Linked DNA regions of Homo sapiens. The protein of the gene in region 2 interacts with the protein of the main gene of each other region in a biochemical or structural test. Each region holds a gene or a part of one and is shown on either strand. Other genes may lie near its edges.

Region 1 (7,466 bases), on a different chromosome or scaffold from region 2:
TCACCTCCATCCTAACTAAACCTTACAACCAGCCCAGGAGGTAGAACTCATGAACCCATTCTACAGATGAAGGAGCTGAGACCCAGACTAAAGACTGCCCAAGGCCCTGCAGACTGGAATCCCAGTCGATTCTCTGCCTCTGAGAGAGAAGCCCAAGTAAGTGAAGATGTGAGGACCTATTGTCTTCTTCCCTCACATCTCCAGAGAGACTTCAGGAGTGCTAGGTTCTGGGGGCAGGCTTGTGATCTCCTCAGGGTCCCCTGAGAACTCCAGGAAAGTGATGAGAGAGTCAGGGTTTGCAGAATTCAGAAGAGTAGGCACTAGACCAAAGCATAGCATAAAACCATTTACCGATGTGGCCATAAGTCCCCCCACCCAACTCCCTCTGTCTCTTAATTGGCTCTCTCTCTCACACACACATACACACACACACACACACACACACACACACACAAACAAACACACGCTGTTAGCAAATCTGTCCTGACAACATCATACAGTCATCCCTCAGTATCCTCAGAGAATTGGTTTCAGGACCCCCTTGGATACCAAAATCAAAGGATGCTCAAGTCCCTATAAAATAGCATGGTATTTGCATATAACCTACTCACATCCTCCCACATACATTAATCATTTTCAGATTATTTATAATACCTAATACACTGTAAATGCGACGTAAACAGTTGATTATACTGTATTATTTAGGGAATGGTGACAAGAAAAAGTCTGTACATGTTCAGTACAGACTCAGCTATCTATTATTTTTTCCAATAGTTTCAATCCAAGATTGACTGAAGGCGTGGATATGGAACCCATGAATAGGGAGGGCAGACTGTATTAGGTGCACATTCATGAGAATAATCAACAGCTCCCCAGATACACAGGACAAACTCAATTCTTCAATAACTGAAGAGGCACAAGTGAGTATTTGTGTGTATTCTTATATGCTCAAGAGAATTCCCAAAGATTTGCCTAGATCTTTCTTGGAAAATCGACTTGGCCTCTGCTGGGATTACTCAACCGCACTTGGAAAAGGGTACCCCAGTGTTAGCAGCTACTGGCTCCATGTTTGGAAAGCAAGTCCTTTCATGGAGTTCAGCTGTTCCTCAGGCATCCAGTAAAGCTGGTTGTGCAAAGGCAGAAAATGTGACAACTGTTGGAAGCCTTCAGCAGCAGCCAATGGGAACAGCCACTGCATCAACAGTTAAAGCAGCCTATTATCCAGTTCACACAAAACACCCACCAGCTACATGGCACCATTAACTCAATATCACCATTCTTATCAAGTTCATGACACACTGGCCATGCTGCCTTGCCACCAACTTTAGAAACCACAAATAACTTCACAAACCATCAAAATACACATGCACAGGGGGAAAGAGAAAGAAGAAAAAAACAACCTTTCTGAGTTCAGAGCACCACGTTCAAAGATTACCTAATAGGCAAACCATGGCATTTCAATATTGCCAGCAAACATCTCTCTCACTTCAGTGGTGAAGTCTCCAAGACATTTCAGATTTGAGGCGTTTGAGAAAGAGGGTCTCAGAGCCTTGGAGACCATGTCAAATGCTTCTAAAAAAGGAAGGGTCTGTGTGCATTTTCCCAATGAAGAATCTGTCCAAAAAGGTTTTGGAAAACGCTTTAATATACTTTGGTTCCAAAACATTACACACTATTTCTCCAACAAATTTATATGTGTTTCCAGAGAACTTCCGAACTGAAAAACACAAATGTATTTAGGTGGAAGAATGTCTGGAGATTCTTTTATGCCAATATGTTAACGGACCTTCTTTTTTAATTGTTACTATTTCATACGGCAGCAGTAATCATTCCCTCATCCTCGAAGGAAATATATAATCCAGCTGTGGTGGCTCCAGTAAAAATACCACATCTGTGGATCATTGGCAACACTGTGTTAAGATTGCTCAAATCTAGGCAGTCTCAGAGAGTTCTTTTTTAAACCCAAGATGCACATGGGTACACTTTTCTGAAAGTGCCTACGAACTTTGCCAAAACTGACTACTCCTTTGTAGGCTGAAAATAGGTTTTCAGATACTCCACACCATAAGAAGGAGGCTCTCATGGAATATTATAACCAGGACCCAGTTGTATGAAGTCCCCAGACCTCCAGGGTGGTGGCTTGTGCCAGTGCCCTTGTCAATATCAAACAGAGAAGGGAAAACTAACATTCCCGGTTTCTGGGAGGAGGTTCTACCGCGTGGCTGGCTGAGTCGCTGACTCCTGGTTTTCCACTTAACAGGAGGACAGCTTCCGCAGAGAGGATGGCAGCCACCGTTCAGGTCACCCTTCTCTTGGTTCTCCAGGCTATGAAGCCAACGTATGCCTGAGCATTCGGTCATAATATTCCTGGAGTCGTCCCCCCACCCCAAGCCTCTGTTTAGTCCTTCCCCAAAGCCCAGCAGCAAGCATCTTTTTTTAAGCCAATCTTCCACATTCAAATCCTCAGTCCAAAGCGCGCCCTTGGGGGTCTCCATCTATAGACATAGAAAAGAAAAGGCAGCCTAGCTGAGCCCTGACAGAGTTTTAGCCCCTGGAACATATGACCTGCGGCTACTGTGCTGGCATGCCGCTTGCCCCGAAACCCTCGGGGGCCCCCTTCCACCCCAGACAATAGAGCAAGAAAATAAAATGAAAGTGGACTTACTGCTATGGCTTGCAGCCTTTCCTTGTGCAATTCCGCCTCTGCCATCCTGGAGAAGGGCACACAGGCAGGGGAAAGAGGAAAGAAAAAACACACGCTGTAGTCACCCAAGGAAACTGATGGGCACCCCGGGGGGCTTTGCTAGAACCCGGGAGAACGCCCAGGGACGGCTGGGGATCCGCTCCAGGGGCGGCGGGCAGAGCTGTGCGCACGGCGGGCTCGCCCGGGCTCAGCCTCTGGCCCCCGCCCTCCCGGCCGCCTGGCTGCGCCCCAGCGCCGCCGCTCACTGCATCTCCCGGTCGCCGCCGCCGCCGGCCGCGCCAGCCGAGGACGTGGGACGCCGGCAGCCGCCGGGAGGGCGCGCTAGCCCGGCGCTAGTTCTCCGCCCTGACGTCTCGGTGCCTCGCTCCGCCCCTGGAGTGTGATGGACCCGAGGCCGCGGTCCAAGGCGGCTCCGAGCGATCGCCGCCGCGGGTCTCCAAGGCGCAGACGGAGGGCGCGCGAGCCAGTGGGCACCTGGGGCGCGGGCGCACGGCGAGCCGCTGGGGCGCACGGCTGGCGTGGCGCGCCCGCGTGGACACGCGCTTGCTGGGGCGGAGGCAGAGCGCAGTGGCGCCTCCACCGGGCAGATGCCAGTGGAGAGGGGCGTCTGACCGAATGTGGGACCCGAGCACGTGCTGTTACGTGGGGGCTGGGGCCACCGAGTGTTCAGGGCACCTTCTGGCTCAAGCCAGACGCTTGAGCTCCACGTGGGGACATTTACAATTTGGGAAGGGCTGCCTTGCCCAAGTGGCCCACATGCTTAAGATGACCAAGTTCTCAATATCAAGTCGGCCGAGGGTAGGGTATATCTCCAGAGAGGCCACCCTTCTGGTGAGGCGATATGTGGCCTTAAAAGAAGCCGAGAGTTTTTAGTCCTGGGTGCTAGACTAGATTTCACAATGTGTTAGCTGTGAAATCTCAGGCAACTCGCTTAATCACTCTGAACCTCAGTTTCCTCATCTGAAAAAATGGAGGATCACATAGGTGTCATTAGAGACGAATGAGAGACAGTATGTAAAGGTGCTTTGTAAAGGGCATCACAGACATCTGCTCTTATTATCCTGTGACATTCTGGATTGAAATCCTTTCAGGGTCTTCTGTTCATTGCATCTGAAAGGAAAAGTAGGATCTACTCACTAAAATATTTCACCTATTCTTTACTAAAACAGGATACCATGTGGTACTAATGTGAGTCTTTTGTGACAGGTCCTGGACTGGATGTAAGAAGTGGATCAGGCCCAGTCCAAAAGGAGATCAATGCCAAAAGCAAAAAAAAATGCCTCTTCACATTGAGGCAGGACCTGCTAGAATTCCCAACATTCATATGCAAACGTTTCTTCATCAAATGAAATAAACACTGAAATAACTAATATGGCCTCTTTAGAGCCATAGGATTTAAAGGCATGTTAAAAGATATACACATCAGGCCAGATGCGGTGGCTCACACCTGTAATCCCAGCACTTTGGGAGGCCAAGGCGGGTGGATCACCTAAGGTCAGGAGTTCGAGACCAGCCTGGCCAACATGGTGAAACCCCTTCTCTACTAAAAATACAAAAAATTAGCCGGGCGTGGTGGCAGGCACCTGTAATCCCAGCTACTTGGGAAGCCGAGGCAGGAGAATCACTGGAACCTGGGAGGCAGAGGTTGCAGTGAGCCGAGATCACATCATTGCACTCCAGCCTGGGCAACAAGAGTGAAACTCTGTCTCAAAAAAAAAAAAAAAAATGCACATCAAATTTTCCCAGATCACCTGTTTCCTGAATAAATGCTTCCATTTCAACTAAATTGCCCTTTCAATTTTCACAGAGGTTCACCTGTCACTGATGAACAATTACTCCTCTGACCAAAGATGGAAGCACTCACCAAAATCGTTTACTGATGGATTGTTTTCCCATCTTTTTCATAACAAGTGTAGGTGGAGCTGATTGTTTAATAAATCCAAGCCAGTGCCAGATTCTACATCCCACTCCAATATATCAGAAACTTCTACTTTCTGGCTAAGCCCATCCTTTTCTTCAAATGCATCCTTTTTTCTTCATTTCCAGCACAAGCCCCAGCAGGACAAGTTATTTAAAGGGGTTTGCTCACAAATAAACAAAGCTGTTATTGCTTCAGCAGAGTGATTGTAGAGAATACTAAGATGAGGAAAATGAGACCAGAGAGGTTGAAAGACTCAGCTACAGTTATAGAGCTGGGATTTAAACTCAGATCACACTCACCAGAGCCCATGCTCTTAACCATTAAGCACCAGGCTTGGCCAATGATATGGAGATAGAAGCAGGCCCCAGGAATAAACAATTGAACCAGAAATGGTCCTTCTACTCCCAGCTATACAGATATTTAAAAGGTATGATTGAGCACAACAGTGTGAATGTACTTACTGTCATCAAACCATATGCTTAAAAGTGGTTGAAATGGTAAATTTTAAGTTTTGTATTTTTAACCGCAATAAATTTTTAAAAGGAGTGATGGAATGGGGAGATGGAGAAGGAAAAGGGCCTGGGCACCCTTTGGAAGTGATCAGTTGGAAATATCTGAACTCTGAATAGAAGAATCGGGGTTGGGGACACACATCCAAGTGTCATCTACTTTGCGGTTACAGCTAAAGAAATGAGAACAGCCAGGATGAGAAAACAGAGCAAGAAGAGGAGAGAGCCCAGCAAAGAAGACTGATAAAGTATCATCCGAGAAGTAGAAGGAAAAATTCAAAGGGATTTGCACCAAAAGCCACAAAGAAGGAAAGAGGTTTTCAACAGGGTCATATGCTTCTGAAAGGTCATGGGGGATGCAGATGAAGAAGAGACCATTGGAGGGCTGTCAGTAAGCCATGAGTGACTTGTGTCCAGAAGATGAGCTTGGAAGCACTTACAAGAGGTGAGGAATGACTGCTACCAAGTGAATGTTGAAAATAAAACAAACAAAAATGGGGATGAGCGAGAGATCAGAGAAGCAACCATGAGTACAAACTGCTTCTTTCAGCTCTTCAGATGTGAAAGATGAAGGTGGAGAACAGGAACATAGCCCATGGGAAGCAGGGTCTAGTGGAAAGGGTTTTTAGGTCAGGCAAGACTTGGATGTTTGGGGGTCAAAGCAAATTAGACAACAGGGAAATTAGGCCAAAGATACAGTCAAAAAGGAAGGTGAATATTAGTCAAAGTCTCTAATTAGTCAAGAGGACATTCAGATGAGCATCACATTAGCCAGTTAGCCTTGGGAAGAAGGAATAACGAAGTAGGGAAGGAGGAAGAAATGGATAAAGACAAGAAGAAAGTTTGAGTTCAACTCTCAGGAGAGAGGTTAAGTGAATTTGCATCAGATGGACTGGTTTTCCCAATTGAACAAAGAGTCATTGATTAAGACTGATGGCGTAGGGTTGGGGCTTCAGAAAAATAGAAATCGTTTGTAAAGAAACTGTGAAAGATGAGAAAGACTAAAACATGGTTCCTAATCAGAAATCTGCATCAGAATCTCCTGAAGACCTGTACAGAATTAAATTTCTACAGGGTGATGTGGGAGTTAGGGATGGGTTTAGAACCTTTGTACTAATTGAATTTACTAGGAATAGACTAAAGACTCATGACCAATAGTGTGTACTTCCTAAGTGATTTTTAACTGCCCTGAGACCCACAATAAAAAAAGCTTGTGTTTATTCAGTGTTGCGGATTATCAAAGCAGGTAAGACAAAAAGCCAAAGAAGAGAGGAAATTCAAAATGCTTCTGGCCAGGTAGGAAGTGTAACAGACTTGTTCATATACACATTTTTTTTTCCTCTGGCTGGCCAATTTGTGAACTCCTTCCCATCTTTGGGGATTTCCCATATTAAAAGCCATAGTGAGAGGCAGAGCCACATCCTGTGGTAGAAGCTGGGAGGTATCAGACACTTGTTCCCCAGATCCCCCTGAAGCCATGGTATGGCAGGCAATCTCGGCTCAGTCAGGCATGTGTGCCTGCCAAGAATTTTGGAGACTGAGCATGTTAGAGAATTCCTTCAGGCTATTAGTTCACCTTTGGTTGTACCCATTGCCCAAGCTTCCTTCTTTGGACGTTCCATCTCTCCTGTGAGCTATCTAATACAATTTCATTTCATTCTTTTTCTGCTCCTATCAGCCAGAATCTATTTCTGTTGCTTGGGACCAAGAACCCTAGGTGAAACAGGAAGGCACATGAAATGACTGCCTGATGGTTGGCCAAGGAGCAGAGGGAAAATCTTTTTTCCTCTTCCAGCACTTCTTTCAACTTTCTAAATTTTAGTATTTTAAAATCTTTGAACCCATTACAAACACAGGCATTTAAAACCCAAACTATGCTATTTATTTAATAAACATATTGTATAATTATTTTATATTAGATGTTTGGCCATGGCCTGGTATTAAGAAAAAAAATCGTAGTCTAGTGCCACAATGATATTGGTGACTATTTGCCCTCCAAACATTTAAAATCTGGATATATACATCACAATGATGCATAATGTATGTAACAAATCACTAGTTCTTGCTGGGACATTAAATTGTGTTGCATAAACACCATCTGTACGGTTTAGTGGTTTTTATGATAGATGCTTCATTGCAAAGCATTATACGAAAAGGATACAGAATGCTAGATATGCAAAATAGATGTTTTGTTAATAAAAATTTCAGAATCTATTTTAGAACATGAGTCCTTTGAGAATCACAAACGATCATAGCCAATTCCTTTGTGGGGAAAACAAGAGCTCTGTATACCAAAAGGGAAATGACTTGCCAAGGCCCGTTGTGTGAGTAA
Region 2 (7,622 bases):
CGTGGCCTGGGAGCTAACTGCTCCCTGGAGCATGGGCACTTGTTAAAACAGATTAGATTTCCTGGGCAAAAGGCAATGGCCTCGCTGGAGGAGCCACAGTAGAGGCTGAAAGACAGCTTGGGTAAGGGCCGAGAAAACATAGCCCACTTCCTCAATCTCTCTTGCCAACTAAAGGCTCATGAACACTTCTAAGGCAACATAGAAGCTGTTGCTTGTAGGAACTAAGTGAGCTGGGAGTACTAAATCCAGGAGGGCCTGGCATGTAGAGGTGGTCAGGTGACCAGCGGATCCCAGGAAATGGGTGGGGGACTGGAATGGCTTAGAAAAGTGGTCCCTTGATCAAGTAAGAGGGAGGTTTTCCTGCTGGACCTGAGTCCTGCAAGTATGCAGAGGGCATAAGGTATTTAAGCTGGAGGATCTGAGCCAAGAGCAGGCCTTCAGAGGAGTTCGGGGAAGTTTAGGCCCCTCTCTTCATCTTGGAGAGACAGACAGAAACGTTTGAATAACAAACCTATCAAGAGCACACAAAATTCATTGTTTCATTGGAAACAGCAATGGTACCCTACCCATTTTCGTTTTCACCAAGACCCGTTGCTTTTGGGCTAAACAACATGTGTCCCACCTGTGCTACTCTGCATCCATAGTTGCAAACATCTCTGCAAATTGGCCCCATTGTGTCCATATCTGTGCCTCTGGTTGGTGATATGGCAGTTTGTGCAAGACGTTGACTGCCTGCTGAGTTGTGAGTAGGATTAGATTTGAGTGTAGCACCCTCAGGGTTCTGGGGCCTCCTCCTGTGTACTTCTCTTCCTTCTAAGAGTCTCTGCTGTTGGCCTTTTCCACCATCAGTTGCTCTTGGCAGCTGTATCTCAGTTACCGGCTGCCTCTGGGTTTAGTTGCCATGGTAACCTCCAGTGGTGCAGCTGGACAGGCTTGAATGCAGGCAGGATAAATGCAGGATAAGGGTAGAAGATGCGGGGTTCAGGCTCCTGGTGTTCTGTCCTGTTACAGGGCCCTCTTCTTTAGCCAGTTCAACTAGATATTCATGAAGACCCTGGGGGCTCTACTTGTTACTGAAGGGTTGACCAGAAGTGGGAGAGATGCACCCCTGCTCTGGGGACCAAGTGCTGGGGGAGAGTGCCAGGTTAAACCTGGAGGCTGGCTGCCCATCCTTGCTCTAAGACTAGTCTATGGAGACCCATGAGGAGCAGCTGTAGGACTCCTGCTTTCTGTGGCTATATGGCAGACACACCTGTGTATGGTAGCTGCACCTGACAGCAATAACTTAAGCATACTCTGAGAATGACCCTGTATGGCAGATGCACCTGAATGTGTTAGGAGTTCCAAGTGAGGACAAGCCAGAGATTCATTACTTACCCATGAGGAATATCTGAGCCCCCATTCTGTCCTGTGGATGTACAGGGGATTTAGCCCCTTTGTTTTGGGTTAAATCAAAGTTGTTAGGGGGAGGGTGTTAAGTGAAAATGCTATATATACTGCATACTTTCTGCAGGTGGGGCAGTTCTCCTATCTAGCCCACCTCCACTGGACTGCTCTGTATGCAAATTCCCCTCAATCAAACCTAAGTCTTGTTTGCTGGCTCTGGATCTCTTTTGGCCTCTCAAACCTGGTGCCATCCCTACTGAAGTTAATGGGGGTCTGGTGGCCAGGTGCGATGGCTCACACCTATAATTCCAGCACTTTGGAAGGCTGAGGCGGGTGGATCGCCTGAGGTCAGGAGTTCGTGACCAGTCTGGCCCTGTCTGTACTAAAAATACAAAAATTAGCCAGGCGTGGTGGTGTGCGCCTGTAGTCCCAGCTACTCGGGAGGCTGAGGCAGGAGAATGGCTTGAACCCAGGAGGTGGAGGTTGCAGTGAGCAGAGATTGCGCCACTGCACTCCAGCCTGAGCGACAGAGCAAGACTCCATCTCAAAAAAGAAAACAAAACAAAATATGGGTCTTTCTTGGCCGGGCGTGGTGACTCATGCTGGTAATCCCAGCATTTTGGGAAGCTGAGGCAGGCGGATCACCTGAGGTCAGGAGTTCAAGACCAGCCTGGCCAATATGGTGAAACCCCATCTGCACTAAAAATACAAAAAATAAGCCGGGCGTGGTGGTGCGCACCTATAATCCCAGCTACTTGGGAGGCTGAGACACGAGAATCGCTTGAACCTGGGAGGTGGAGGTTGCAGTGAGCCGAGATCGCGTCACTGCACTCCAGCCTGGGCAACAGAGTAAGACTGTGTCTCAAAAAAACAAACAGGCCAGGCGTGGTGGCTCACGCCTGTAATCCCAGCACTTTGGGAGGCCAAGGCAGGCGGATCATGAGGTCAGGAAATCCAGACCATCCTGGCTAACATGGTGAAACCCCGTCTCTACTAAAAAATACAAAAAATTAGCTGGGCATGGTGGCGCACGCCTGTAGTCCCAGCTACTCTGGAGGCTGAGGCAGGAGAATGGCATGAACCCGGGAGGTGGAGCTTGCAATGGGCCGAGATCATGCCACTGCACTCCAGCCTGGGCAACAGAGCAAGACTCCATCTCAAAAACAAACCCAAACAAACAAAATGGCCAGGTGCAGTGCCTCACGCCTGTAATCCCAGAACTTTGGGAGGCTAAGGCGGGCAGATCCCTAGGTCAGGAGTTCGAGACCATCCTGGCCAACATGGCAAAACCCCGTCTCTACTGAAAATACAAAAATTAACTGGGCATGGTGGCAGGTGCCTATAATCCCAGCTACACAGGAGGCTGATGCAGGAGAATTGCTTGAACCTGGGAGGTGGAGGTTGCAGTGAGCTGAGATCGTGCCATTGCACTCCACCTTGGGCGACAAAAGGAAGACTCCATCTAAAAGAAAAAAAAAAAGCCAGGTGCGGTGGCTCACGCCTGTAATCCCAGCACTTTGGGAGGCTGAGGCGGGTGGATCACGAGGTCAAGAGATTGAGACCATCCTGGCCAACATGGAGAAACCCCATCTCTACTAAAAATAGAAAAAATTTGCTGGGTGTGGTGGTGCACGCCTGTAGTACCAGCTACTTGGGAGGCTGAGACAGGAGAATCGCTTGAACCTGGGAGGCAGAGCTTGCAGTGAGCAGAGGTCATGCCATTGCACTCCAGCCTGGGCGACAGAGTGAGACTCCTCTCAAAAAAAAATAGGGGCCTGGCAGAACGGTCGCCCTCATTCCTTCCAGATGCCTTTTGAATGCTCTGCTGGATGGGTGGTTGGCTGAGCCGTGGGGCATCTGAGAACAAGTCAGTAGACCTTCTCCAAGAGTATGCAATAAGGACTGAGCAGGAAAAAAGTTGGAGACTGCCTGTCCCCTCACAAAGTTGATGGTCTAACATTCTTCTCAGGGTCAAGAAACTTGTCCAGGGAGACACTGCTGTTTATAATCACAGGCCTGCTTAGCCTAGAACCTGGGCTGGCCTCTTCATCAGTGGGGATGAGGGCTCCTTGCTCCCAGCTGCTCAGCTCCCAGCAGCATTGAGCTCCTGGGTGTGTGCCAAGCCTGTATGGGAGGTGATAGGGAGGATTTTAATTAATACTGAGTAATTACCAGGCGGTGTTTAAGCATCCCAAATGCCCTCAGGTTCCCAAACCTACAGCTACTCTCTTCCTGGCTAGGCCTGTAAGGAGAGGGGGACTCTGCTCTATGCCCAGTGGGCCTTTGGTTAGCACGTAGGCTGTAGACTGGACATCCCAGGAAGGTCTCCACCTTTTTCAATACCCTTCCAGTTTGGTAGGAGGAGGAGGGCAATTTGGGAAATAGTCTGGCCTCTACAGTTCACCTATACCATCTTCCCAGGGGCAAAGGATAACAATGCCTGTGGTCTGCTCAACTTCATCAAGCAGTGTTGACCTAGGGCCCAGTGTAGAATGTGGGGAGAGGAATGGGCAGACCTAGATCTGGGGACCCTGGTGAAAGTGCTCCAGGAGGAACAGGCACAGAGGTCTTTGCTGCTTTTGGCCTTATTTCCCTTTCTCACTGTACACATTTGGCTGAGTGAACTCTTTCAAATTTATTTTTCTGTCTGTGGCTCTCAAATTATGATCTCATTCAAACGCCTACTTCCTACAAGGCCTTACCCGTTTGACATCTCAGAGACCTGACAGACTCCTGAGTTATTCCACCATTCCACCTGGCAGCCAAGGTGGTCTTGACTCCACCAGGCCTTTGCTCTTGTTGTATGTTCAGATGGCTTTCCTCCAGATCTTCCCCTGGGCGGGTCCTGCTCAGGCCTCGGGGCTAGCTTGAATGTCACGCCGGAAAGTGAGCCCTCTCTTGCCCTTCATCACAGCAGAATCACACTGATGTGCTCGTATGCTTCTGCTTCTCGCTGTGTCTCTGGTGCTTAGTAAGTGCTGGCCAAAAAGAGGCTCTTGGCATCAGCTGAAAGAATAATTTAAAGGTCTTCAGGACCAGGCGAGAGGCACTAATCGGTCCCCTTCATGGGTAGACCGTTCATTACCTAATTCCCTGGATTCCCTCCGTGAGCTGGCATCAGGAACACTCCACTGTCTCGACCCCCCGACAGCCCGAGGGGGCGGGTCATCTAGTGGCGCAAGCGCACTGAGGGCCGGTGCTAAGCGGGGACGCGCACGCCCGCGGTGGCGTGCGTCACAACCAGGACGCCTGCCCCGCCCGTCCAGCTCGCCTGCCCGTCGGTCCCCGCGGCGGCGGCGGCTGCCCAGTGACAGCGGCGGCGGTGCCAGGTCGGCCGTGGTAGCGTAGGGTTGCGCGGCCCGGAAACGCAGAGCCGGCCAAAGAGCGGCGCGACGTGAGCCGGGGCCGTGCGCGAAGAGACCTCGCGGGCGCGGAGCGAAAGGCCGGCGTGAGTGAGCGCGGAGACAGTGGCCGCCGGCGGCCCAACCCGTCTATCCCTTCGGCCGCCGCCGGCATGAGCCACATCCAGATCCCGCCGGGGCTCACGGAGCTGCTGCAGGGCTACACGGTGGAGGTGCTGCGACAGCAGCCGCCTGACCTCGTCGAATTCGCAGTGGAGTACTTCACCCGCCTGCGCGAGGCCCGCGCCCCAGCCTCAGTCCTGCCCGCCGCCACCCCACGCCAGAGCCTGGGCCACCCCCCGCCAGAACCCGGCCCGGACCGTGTCGCCGACGCCAAAGGGGACAGCGAGTCGGAGGAGGACGAGGACTTGGAAGGTAGGCTGTGGGCGGGGCCCTGGGGAGTGGTGCAGGAGGTCTCCAGAGGTCTAGAGGGGTGGCAGGGAGCCAGGTGTCGCGCCGCAGCCAAGCCGACCGCAGGCTGGGATTGGGAGCTCTGTAGCCGCGTTTCTAGCGTTTCCCTGAGACACCGGCGTGAGCCCGCGTGCGCCACTTCCAAATTGAGCTCCGCGATCCTGCGAGCCCTAGAGCGCACCGAGTGATTTGTCAGATCCAGCCTTGAAGGAAACGTGCGCGCTGTCGGCCCTGCTAGAGGATCCCTCGCCTTTGCTTAAGACCCTTCACCAGTTTTGGCTTCGAAGACAACAGCGTTCTCATCCAGTGACTTGTGTTTAATTGATAGGACAGTAAGTTTGTTTGGAAATAATAATTTTTTTTGAAAAGTTACTGTGAAAACTTTTAAGCATAGACAAAAGAGGAAAGGTGAGATGAATCCCTATATGCCATCACCTACATTTAACAGTTGCGTTTGTCACAAAGTTTCATCCATACCTTTTTTCTTTCTTTGCCGAAGTGTATTAAAGCAAATCTCTCAGGTCATTTCACCTCTGCTTACTTGAGTTTGTATTTCTTCAAACATGGTCCCTGGGAATATTCCTATTTTTAAAAACTTGGCCAAAACGATTGAATCAAATTTGGTGAGAGTAAATAATTATCTTGCCGGCCGGGGCAGTGGGCCCCTATAGTCTATACCAGCTACTCTGGAGGCTGAGGAGGAAATATCGCTTGAATCCAAGAGTTCGAGACCAGCCTGGGCAAAATAGACACCCTACCTCATTTTTGAAAACGAAAAACCTGGCCGGGCGTGGTGGGTCACGCCTGTAGTCCCAGCACTTTGGGAGGCCGAGGCGGGTGGATCACCTGAGGTCAGGAGTTCGAGACCAGCCTGGCCAACATGGCGAAACCCCGTCTCTACTAAAAATACAAAAATTAGCCGGGCGTGGTGGCGGGCGTCTGTAGTCCCAGCTACTTGGGAGGCTGAGGCAGGGAGAATCGCTTGAACCTGGGAGGCGGAGGTTGCAGTGAGCCAAGATCATGCCACTGCACTCCAGCCTGGGCGACAGAGCGAACTCCGTCTCAAAAAAAAAAAAAAAGAAAAAGGAAAAACCCAGTAACTATATTCTTGTTTAGTGGGTGGGTTGTAGCTTTAAAGGAAAGGATCCCAGCAGAGACTGAGATCAGGAGAGCAGCTTCATTGGCTCTACTTGCTGTGTCAGGATTTATCATTTAGTAATAGTAAACCTTCTCCAAGAGTTTGCAATAAACTCCAAGAGTACGCAATAAGGACCGAGCAGGAAACAAGTTGGAGACTGTCCCTCCCCTCACAGATTTGGTGATCCAAGATCATCACACCTTTTTTTTTTTTTAAAGTCAGGATCTCGCTCTGTCACCCAGGCTGGGGTGTAGTGGCACAATCAGGGCTCACTGCAACCCCAACCTCACAAGCTCAAGGTATCCTCCCACCTGGGCCTCCCAAGTAGCTGGGACTAAGGGCATGTGCCACCATGCCTTACTAATTTTAAGTGTTTTATAGAGACGGGGTCTCCCTGTGTTGCCCAGGCTGGTCTTGAACTCCTGGCCTCAAGTAATGCTCCTGCCTTGGCCTCCCAAAGTGCTAGGATTACAGGCATGAGCTACTGCTCCTGTCCAAAATAACACTTTCTACATCTGATCTACGCAAGAGTGTTAAGAAGCTATTACAGTTTCCTTGGTTGCTTCAACATATGCTTTGTCAATTTAACAGTAGAATTGGCCTACTTTTGAACAACTAAAATTTAACAAAACAATGAAACCATTTGAGAGGCCAAGTTAGGATCTTAGTGTTATTAGATCACACACACACAAAACTAGTTCTGAGTTGTATCTGGTCTGGCCCAGTATTCAAGTCACGGCAGGGAAGGAGTTAATTAACGGTCATTGCTGTGGGAGGTCACAAGCTTCAGTGCACTGGGCAATCTCCCTAAGTGTATTCATGCTAAAGGAGTAACAAGGGCTCTTCTGGGTTTCCCTTGATTTATTGCACATTACATCATGGGTTTTTGGGAAATCAGAAATTATTTTCTAAACTCTGCCACAGGTTTGCTTTGTGGTCTTGGACAAATTCTCAAACCTGTTTGATCTCAGATTTTCTTATCTTTAAGTTGAGGACAGTGACAACAATCTTCCAGGGACAAATTTGTTTTTAAAAGCTTTATTTCAGGTTTGTTTCACTGTCATCTCTGTAAATCACAAAGCAGTAACCTGCTTTGAGACAATTTTTATTTACACAACACTTTAGGATTTTAGAAATTAGCCTCAGATGAGTAAAAGTTTACAAGTTTTTTTTCTTTTTTATTATACTTTAAGTTTTAGGGTACATGTGCACAATGTGCAGGTTAGTTACATATGTATACATGTGCCATGCTGGTGTGCTGCACCCATTAACTCGTCATTTAGCAT
Region 3 (8,012 bases), on a different chromosome or scaffold from region 2:
CACTACCTCGCCCTCTCACTGAAGCAACCAAAAAAAAAAAAAAAAAAAAAACCTAACTAGTAAAAACACCACACCTTAACTTAGTTATGGCAAGTAGCTGGCTCTATCTACTATTGTGCAATCAAAGAATATTTCTATTATTTGAGAATTAAATATGATCCAACTTTGTTACTACATAAGGCAAGTATGCTTAGCCCTGGGGGAAGTTTGTGGAGCAGCCATCAGTTTGCCTTCATTACATCATCATTACTTAATTCAAATGGTATGAGCTGAGATTCACTAGTAGCTCAAATATTCAAATCAAACAGTTAGTAATGTAGCTCTCCAAACTTTAGGCTAAGGATTTTTTGTTTTGTTTTGCTTTTTTTGGTCTCTAAAACAGTTTTTTTTGTTTTTTTTTTGTTTTTGGTCTCTCACTAAGCTATTTTTCTCCCTCATATTCAGAGATATTAAAATTCTATCTCTGAAAATCTTACTTATAATGTGAGCCTAATAATTTCTATAAATTTACCTCTAATTTTGTAAATTGCTGGTCTGTACTTGCTGTATGGGACAACAATACCTGTTGAAACAATATCTAACATCCAGAAATCCCTTTTGGAGATCTTAAACTTTTGTTTTCCTTCCTGGCAAAACTCAAGCTTTGGATTTAGTGAAAAGTACAAGGATATCCCATCTAGGCAGATGTTTATCAGAGTCTGATAAAAAACTAGATATGACCCCTTCCTGTCATTCGAGGTCTGTGATTAATAAAAAAAGAAGAGGTGATACCAGAAAGAAAATTTGTATCTTACTCCTGCTTTTACTTTCTCAAGTTTCTAACTATAAACACTTAAAAATCTAGTTACTCATACTGATTTACCAGCAGTGGGACCCAATCGTAGTTTAATAACAAAATGCCATAATTTACATAAAGAGTAAGGCAAGGTCAATCACCCTTGTAAGCAAGGTTTTAAAACCATCTTTGTGAAAAACCTCAGCTATGCTGCAGATTCCTGGAGAATGACCGTCACATGGTAAGGCAACCTTTAGAATCCATGACTTTGTCAAGAAGCAGAAATACTGCTCATTAGGGTTCTGTGCAACGGCAGGAAGTGTTTCGAAAAAACTTCTGGCTTCAAAGATGACTTTTCAAACGAACTTTTGGTTTTTGGTAACAAAAAACAACAACAAAAAGCTGAGTCCCTGGCTGATTACTCCTTTTTTCTGAGCAACTGAGTTGCATACAGTTATTCTCCTGTCTGAGGGACAGAAATGTGCTCTTAAATGAATGAGTTATAGGTTACAATTATTTACTACTCTTTCTTATGTAACAAGCTATAAATGACAAGAGCACTACCTGGCAGACAGACAGTAGACCTGTGATCCCCCCAACCACTCTGCTACCAGCCAGGTAGCTATACCCTCCATGGGCTTCAGTGTAGGGACTGTAGAATGAAGGGTGGCCTCAGGTGTCCTCTAACCCTAAACCAGCTCCCATTCTAATGCTGTACTGCAGACTGTGCTTCTTAACACCTGTAATGATTGAACAGAGTAATTTTCGTACTTTTTTTTTTTTTTTCTGAGATAGGGTCTCACTCTGTTGACCAGGCTGGAGTACAGCAGTGAGAACACAGCTCACTGAAGCCTTGACCTCTCCTAGGGTCAAGTGATCCTCCTGCCTCAGGCTCCTGAGTAGCTGGGACTACAGGCACGCACGACCACACTTGTCTAATTTTTTGTATGTATGTATGTATATATGTATGTATGTATTTTGTAGAGACAGGGTCTCACTAACAGCCCAGGCTGGTCTCGAACTCCTGTGCTCATGCGATCCTCCAGTCTAGGCCTTCCAAAGTGCTGGGATTACAGGCGTGAGCCACTGGCACTTGGCTTGGTACCATTTCTATGAACTTTCCAATAGTTAACATCATCTTTAAAACGCCCACTCCCAACCACCACACCAGGCAAAGTTCAAGTGTTCATAAATCAGAGCAGAGGGAAATGTACCCCCTCAAACAGAACAAATGAAAGCAAATGGCAGAGAAACACTGTATTGAGGAGTGGGGGGGGGGCGGGGGGGGGCGAGGGCACCAGGGATGGGACTAGGTGTTGGTTTAGCAAGAGAGGAAGGGGTGAGTGTAAGGTTTCAGAAAAGCTTTCCCAAATCTTCACGGAGTGTCTGTCCTCGGCTTCCGATGAGAGCAAAGTATTTGAGGAATGGAGTTTCCCTCACAAAGGCCAGTCTCAGAGCCAAGGCGGGTGGTGGAAAATGATCTGGAAAGGAACCTGGCTTTTGGTCTTGGTGGTGTCACTAACTAGGAGTGCAGCTTCGGGTTAAGTCACCCAATCCCTCTGAACTTGAGTTGAGGCTGAGAGGCGCCGGCCCGCTCCAAAGCAGCCTTCTCAACTAGTCCTGGTGTATGTATGATATACTTGCATTATTCAGAGTTCAAACTTCTGGAAAAGGCCCCCTGGCCTCCTCGCCTCCCTTCAGGAGAGCGAGCTCTGGCGTGCAGGACCTGCTCCAACTCCTACTGCCCATCCCATCCTCTGGGCCCCACCGAGTCCAGCCGACCGCGTCCATCGCATCTCGCCCTTGGATTGGGCCTCTCTCTTCTCCTAAAGGTACCCAGGCAGACGAGTTCAGGCAGAAAAGAAAAAGAAAAGAAGCAGAGAGGAGCCAGGCGGCCCGGCGGGGCTCTGGAGTGGGAAACTCGCGGCCGCGCTTACCCGCGATGTCCCACAGCTGCAGGCGCACCAGAGTCCTGCTGTCCCAGTTGAGGACCTTGAGGGCGAAGTCCACCCCGATGGTGGCCCGGTAGTGCTGGGAGAAGAGCTGGTGGACGTAGCGCTTGATGATGCTGGTCTTGCCCACGCCAAGCTCGCCGATCACCAGCACCTTGAAGAGGTGCTCGCGGGTCTCGGGCGCTGGGGCGGCGGCCGCCCCCAGGCCGGGGTCCCCGGCTCCTCCGCCCGCCATGAGCGCTGCGGCTGTCGGGCGCGCCTCGACTCCGAGTCTGGCCCCCTGCCCGGCCTCGCGCTCTGCCGCCGCGCCCCCGGCGGCCGCGGAAACTCCCCCGAGGCCGGCCAGCCCTCCGCCGCGCCCGCTGACGCCGCCTGACCGGTCACAGGACCCAGAACCCGCCAGTGCTCGCGGCCCGGGCGGGGCCAGACGAGGGCAGGGCCGGACGAGGGCAGGGCCTGGCGCCGGCTTGGGGAGGACCCTGCGCGAGGCGGCTCCCGCCCTGCGCCTCTGAAGCCCGGCCGGGCCCAACTGGACTTCCTCTCCCGGGCGGCGCCTCCGAAGCCCGGCCGGGCCCAGCTGGACTTCCTCTCCCGGGCGGCGCCTCCTGGCGGTCGCGGCGCGGAGGGAGGCCCAGACGCCCGCTGGTGGGCCTCCGGGGAGCCGGCCTGGAGCCTTTATGGGCCCCGGAGGTTCACTGGGGGCCTGAGGAGGCGCCGAGGTCGCTGAGCCCCCCCCGGGGCCGGGGTCGGCGTGGGGTCCGGGCCCAGCCTGGAAGCCTCTGGCCTGGAAATCCACCTCCTGCCCTACTCTCCCCGCAGGGAGAGCCACACTTGCGGGCCTTGGCTTGGGTCGCGAGCAGTCCCCTTTAGATGGGAAAGGAAGTGGCACCGTGACTTTGAACTTAACGAAGGACGGATAACACTGGGCTGGTAGTTCTGTTTTTAACTTTTTGAGTGAACCTCCGTAGGGTTTTCCATAATGGCTGTTCCAGTCCGCATTCCCACCACCAGTGTACAAGGTTCCCTTTGCTCCGCACATCACCGACACTTATTATCGCTTATCTTTTTTATAACAGTCATCCTAGCAGGTGTGAGGAGATACCTAGTGGCTTTTCCCTGTTCATTAGTGATTTTGAGCGCCTTTTCTTATACCTGTTGGCAATTTGTACTTCCTCTGGAAAAAAAAAAAAAGTCCATTCACATCCTTTGCCCGTTAGTTAACTGGGTGTTTTATTTATTTATTTTGGCTGAGTTCTGTGAACGTAATGTATTTTGGATATTAACCCCTTATCAGATATATGGCTCACAAATATTTTCTCCCAATCTATAGGCTGTTTTTTCATTTTGTTGATTATTTCCTATGCGGTGCAGAAGCATTTTAGTTGGATGAAGTCCCATTTATCTAGGTTTGCTTTGGTTGCCTGGGCTTTTGGTGTGATATTGCAAAAATCGTTGCTAAAGCCAGTGACCCAGCTATCCCTCTTCTGGGTGTATACTCAAAGGAAATGAAATCAGGATCTCAGAAATCGCTCTCAAGTTCATGCAGCATTATTCACAGTTGCGAAGATTTGGAAACAACCAAAGTGTCTGTTAACGATGAATGGATAAAGAAATTGTAATACATACATAGGCATGCACGCGCGCATATACACAGACGCACACACACACACAATGGAATATCATTCAGCCTTTAGAAGGCGATCCTGACATTTGCAACAACATGGATAAACCTGGAGGACATTATGCTAAGCGAAATAAGCCAGACACAAAAAGAAAGATACTGTGCAATATCACTTATATGTGGAATCTTAAACACACACACACACACACACACACACACGGAATACGTGGAAACAGTGGTGGTTACCAGGGGCAGGGAAGAAACGGAATGATGCAGGTCAAAGTGTACAAAGTTGCAGTTATATAGGATGAATGAGTCCTAATGATCTAATGTAGCATGAGCGTTATAGTTAATAATATTGTATTTTAAACTGGAAATTTGCTAAGAGAGTAGACTGTAAGTGCTGTTACCATTAAAAAAAAATTGCAGCCAGGTGTGGTGGCACCCACCTGTAGTCCCAGCTACCCAGAAGACTGAGGTGGGACGACTACCTGAGCCTGGGAGGTCCAGGCTTCAGTGAGCTTAATCGCACCACTGTATTCCACCTGGGCGACAGAGTGAGACCATCTCAAAAAAAAAAAAAAAAAAAAAGAAAAGAAAAAATGAAAAGAAAAAATTGTGTAACTATGTGAGATGATGGACATGTTAATTTGTTAATTTGCTTAACTCTAGTAACTATTTCACTATGTATATCAAAGCATCATGCCGTATACCTTAGATATAGATATATATATATATACACACACACACAACAAAATAGTCTATTAAAAACCTTATCATGCTTTAGCATTTAAATTATGGAAGGAGTTTGAGAAAGAAGACACAGGGACTCTGAAGCCATCTTACTTTACTTCCCTAACAATCCTTTTTCAACCTTCATCTGGTAGTGTTTGGATTAGATGTAAATGCTCTAAGATAAATCATAGGAAATTGATTGGAAAGTAGTAGACTTGTGGGTTTTTATTTTAAAGAAGAAACATGGGGGACAGCCCCTTGCTTTCTCTATCTATAAAGTTGAGGGATGCACCCCATCACCTTAATATTTAGAAACACCTGGAGCTGACATCATCTGGCAGCTTCCTTAAATAAACTAAAGCAGCTGCTTACCCTACTATCCTCACTCTAATTGACAATTATTGAAAAGTGTTTTTCAGAGATGGAGGCGTTTTAAAATTTAGAAGTCAAGGTGGGAGTAAAACCTTTTTCTAGAATAGCTATTGAAAAACCACAGATGTGGAAGTACAGCCAACCAGTACATGGCTTTTATGTTCACCCAATTAGAGAGCCCTTCCAAACCCATGTACAGTTTGGGAAAAAAAGGAAATCCTCCAATTTTTGGACAAAGTGCAGCATTTTGTTCCGTACGTATGTAATACCATAGATGTTTTTTTTTATTCGTCCTTCTCTAGCCCTGCTGAATTTCCACTGACTTTAGAGGTAGAATTGTGGTGGTGCTTAAAATTAGAAAAGGTCACTGCTAAAGGCAGGATAAAGTTGTGGATCAACGATTCAAAGACAGGATAAGAGTTTAGATGAGTGGTTTTCAAACTTGAGAGTTCTGGGTTTGTTAAAACAGAGGGGTTCTGATTCAGATCTAGGGTGAGGCAAATAATTTGCATTTCTAACAAGTTCCCAGGAGATGTTGCTGCTAAGTGTCTAGGAGCACAGTGGTTTGGATCAGAATTTGCTTCTCGAACTTAAAAGTTCTTATGTATCTAGTAATACATACCACTTTTTTTTAAATCCATTTATCCTTCCGTAGATATTGAGATTGCTTCCACACTTTGACTATTGTCAATTGTGCTGTATTGAACATTTGGGTGCTAATATCTCTTCAAGATTCTGATTTTCATTCTTTTGGAGAAATACCTGGAAGTGGGATTGCTGGATCATATGGTGGTTCCATTTTTAATTTTTTGAGAAATCTCCATATTATTTTCTATAGTGGCTGCACCATTTTGCATTCTCATCACCAGTATACAAGCGTTCAATTTTCTCTGCATCTCTACCAACACTTGTTGTCTTTTAAAAAATATAATAGCCATCCTTATATAATGGAATATTATTCCACCTTAAAAATAAGGAATTTCCACAATATGCAACAACATGGATGAACCTCAAAGACGTTATGCCGAGTGAAATAAGCCAGTCACAATAGGAAGAATTCTGCATGAATCCACTTATATAAGGTATCTAAAATAGCCAAACTCAGAAAATCAGGAAGGAGAATGGTGGTTTTCAGGGTCTGGAGTCAGGGAGAAAAGGGAAATTGCTAATTTCAATTATGCAAGATGAATAAGTTCTAGAGATCTGCTGCACCACATTGTGCCTACAGTTAACAATAGTCTTGCACACTTAAACATTTAAGAAAGTAAATTTTATGTTGTGTTCTTACTACAATACAATTATTAAAGTTCACATAAATTATGTAGGATCTTAGAAAAGTTTAAATTCTGATTCAGCATATCTGGGATGGAACCTGAAATTCAAAATTTCTAACAAGTTTCTAGGTGATGTCAATGCTGTTGGTAGACCACACTTTTGTTAGCAAGGTGTGATGGTTAATATTTAATGTCAACTTGATTGGATTGAAGGATGCAAAGTATTGTTCATGGGTGTGTCTGTGAGGGTGTTGCCAAAGGAGATTAACACTTGTGTCAGTGGACTGGGAGAGGAAGACCCACCCTCAACCTTGGTGGGCACCATCTATTCAGCTGCCAGTGTGGCTAGAATTAAAGCAGGCAGAGGAATGTGGACGGACTAGTCTTCCAGTGTTCATCTTTCTCCTGTGCTGGATACTTCCTGCCCTTGAACATCAGACTCCAAGTTCTTCAGCTTTTGGACTCTTGGACTTACACCAGTGGTTTGCCAGGGGCTCTTAGGCCTTCAGCCACAGATTGGCAGCTGCACTGTTGGCTTCCCTACTTTTGAGGTTCAAGGACTCAGACTGGCTTCCTTGTTCTTCATCTTGCAGATGGCCTACTGTGGGACTTCACCTTGTGATCTTGTGAATGAATACTCCTTAATAAACTCCCCTTTATATATACATCTATCCTATTAGTCCTGTCCCTCTAGAGAACCCTGACTAATACACACGGGTTCAGATTAGAATTCAGTAGTTCCCACATTTGCTGTGTATCTGACTTACCTAGGGAGCTAGCTAGTTAATTAGCCCCGACCTTCTGTTTTAATGTTTTAGAAGGGGATCCCAGGAATCTGTATTAAAACACAAACAAACCTAGATAAGCATGATGCACACACTAAAGAAACCAGACATACATAATACCAAGTACTGTAAGTAAGTGTTGGACAATATCTGCGTGTACAGCCCTGAACTGGAGAAGGTTGGGGGAGAATGGATAAGTGTTAGAATCCTGAACTGACATTTTAGAGGAAAACAAGTTTTCTTTCCACACATGAAATAAAGAGAACATAATACAGGTAATCTGAGACTTGTCACTGAATAAATACGACTGCCTTTATTTTAAACAGACATTTCCATTTACTACATAAAAAAATAGCCCACTCAGAAAGTCACCCTGTGATGTTCCCCTACACATTTATTATGTTTCAGCATTTGCTATGCCTTTTATCTAGAATGTTCCAAACCATTACCCCATCCCAGGCTCTCAAATAAACTGTCCTCATCCTTCCTGCGCTAGAT

Evidence for each region.
Region 1: the proteins of PRKAR2A (region 2) and PALM2AKAP2 form a complex in vitro, tested with the Homo sapiens proteins (2 studies listed by BioGRID, with this or other methods).
Region 3: the proteins of PRKAR2A (region 2) and RAB32 interact in a test that uses a peptide from one of them, tested with the Homo sapiens proteins (2 studies listed by BioGRID, with this or other methods).

Annotation. Positions count from the first base shown.
Region 1 is NC_000009.12:109,775,733-109,783,198, reverse strand, and holds the start of PALM2AKAP2 (PALM2-AKAP2 protein isoform 3 (PALM2-AKAP2)), read right to left. Parts: upstream 3,002-7,466; 5' UTR 2,712-3,001; coding exon of another isoform or gene 2,711-2,711; coding exon 2,666-2,710; intron 1-2,665. UniProt on the Homo sapiens protein: Binds to regulatory subunit (RII) of protein kinase A. May be involved in establishing polarity in signaling systems or in integrating PKA-RII isoforms with downstream effectors to capture, amplify and focus diffuse, trans-cellular signals carried by cAMP.
Region 2 is NC_000003.12:48,844,875-48,852,496, reverse strand, and holds the start of PRKAR2A (cAMP-dependent protein kinase type II-alpha regulatory subunit), read left to right. Parts: upstream 1-4,622; 5' UTR 4,623-4,900; coding exon 4,901-5,162; intron 5,163-7,622. UniProt on the Homo sapiens protein: Regulatory subunit of the cAMP-dependent protein kinases involved in cAMP signaling in cells. Type II regulatory chains mediate membrane association by binding to anchoring proteins, including the MAP2 kinase.
Region 3 is NC_000006.12:146,538,822-146,546,833, reverse strand, and holds the start of RAB32 (ras-related protein Rab-32), read right to left. Parts: upstream 3,002-8,012; 5' UTR 2,963-3,001; coding exon 2,713-2,962; intron 1-2,712. UniProt on the Homo sapiens protein: The small GTPases Rab are key regulators of intracellular membrane trafficking, from the formation of transport vesicles to their fusion with membranes.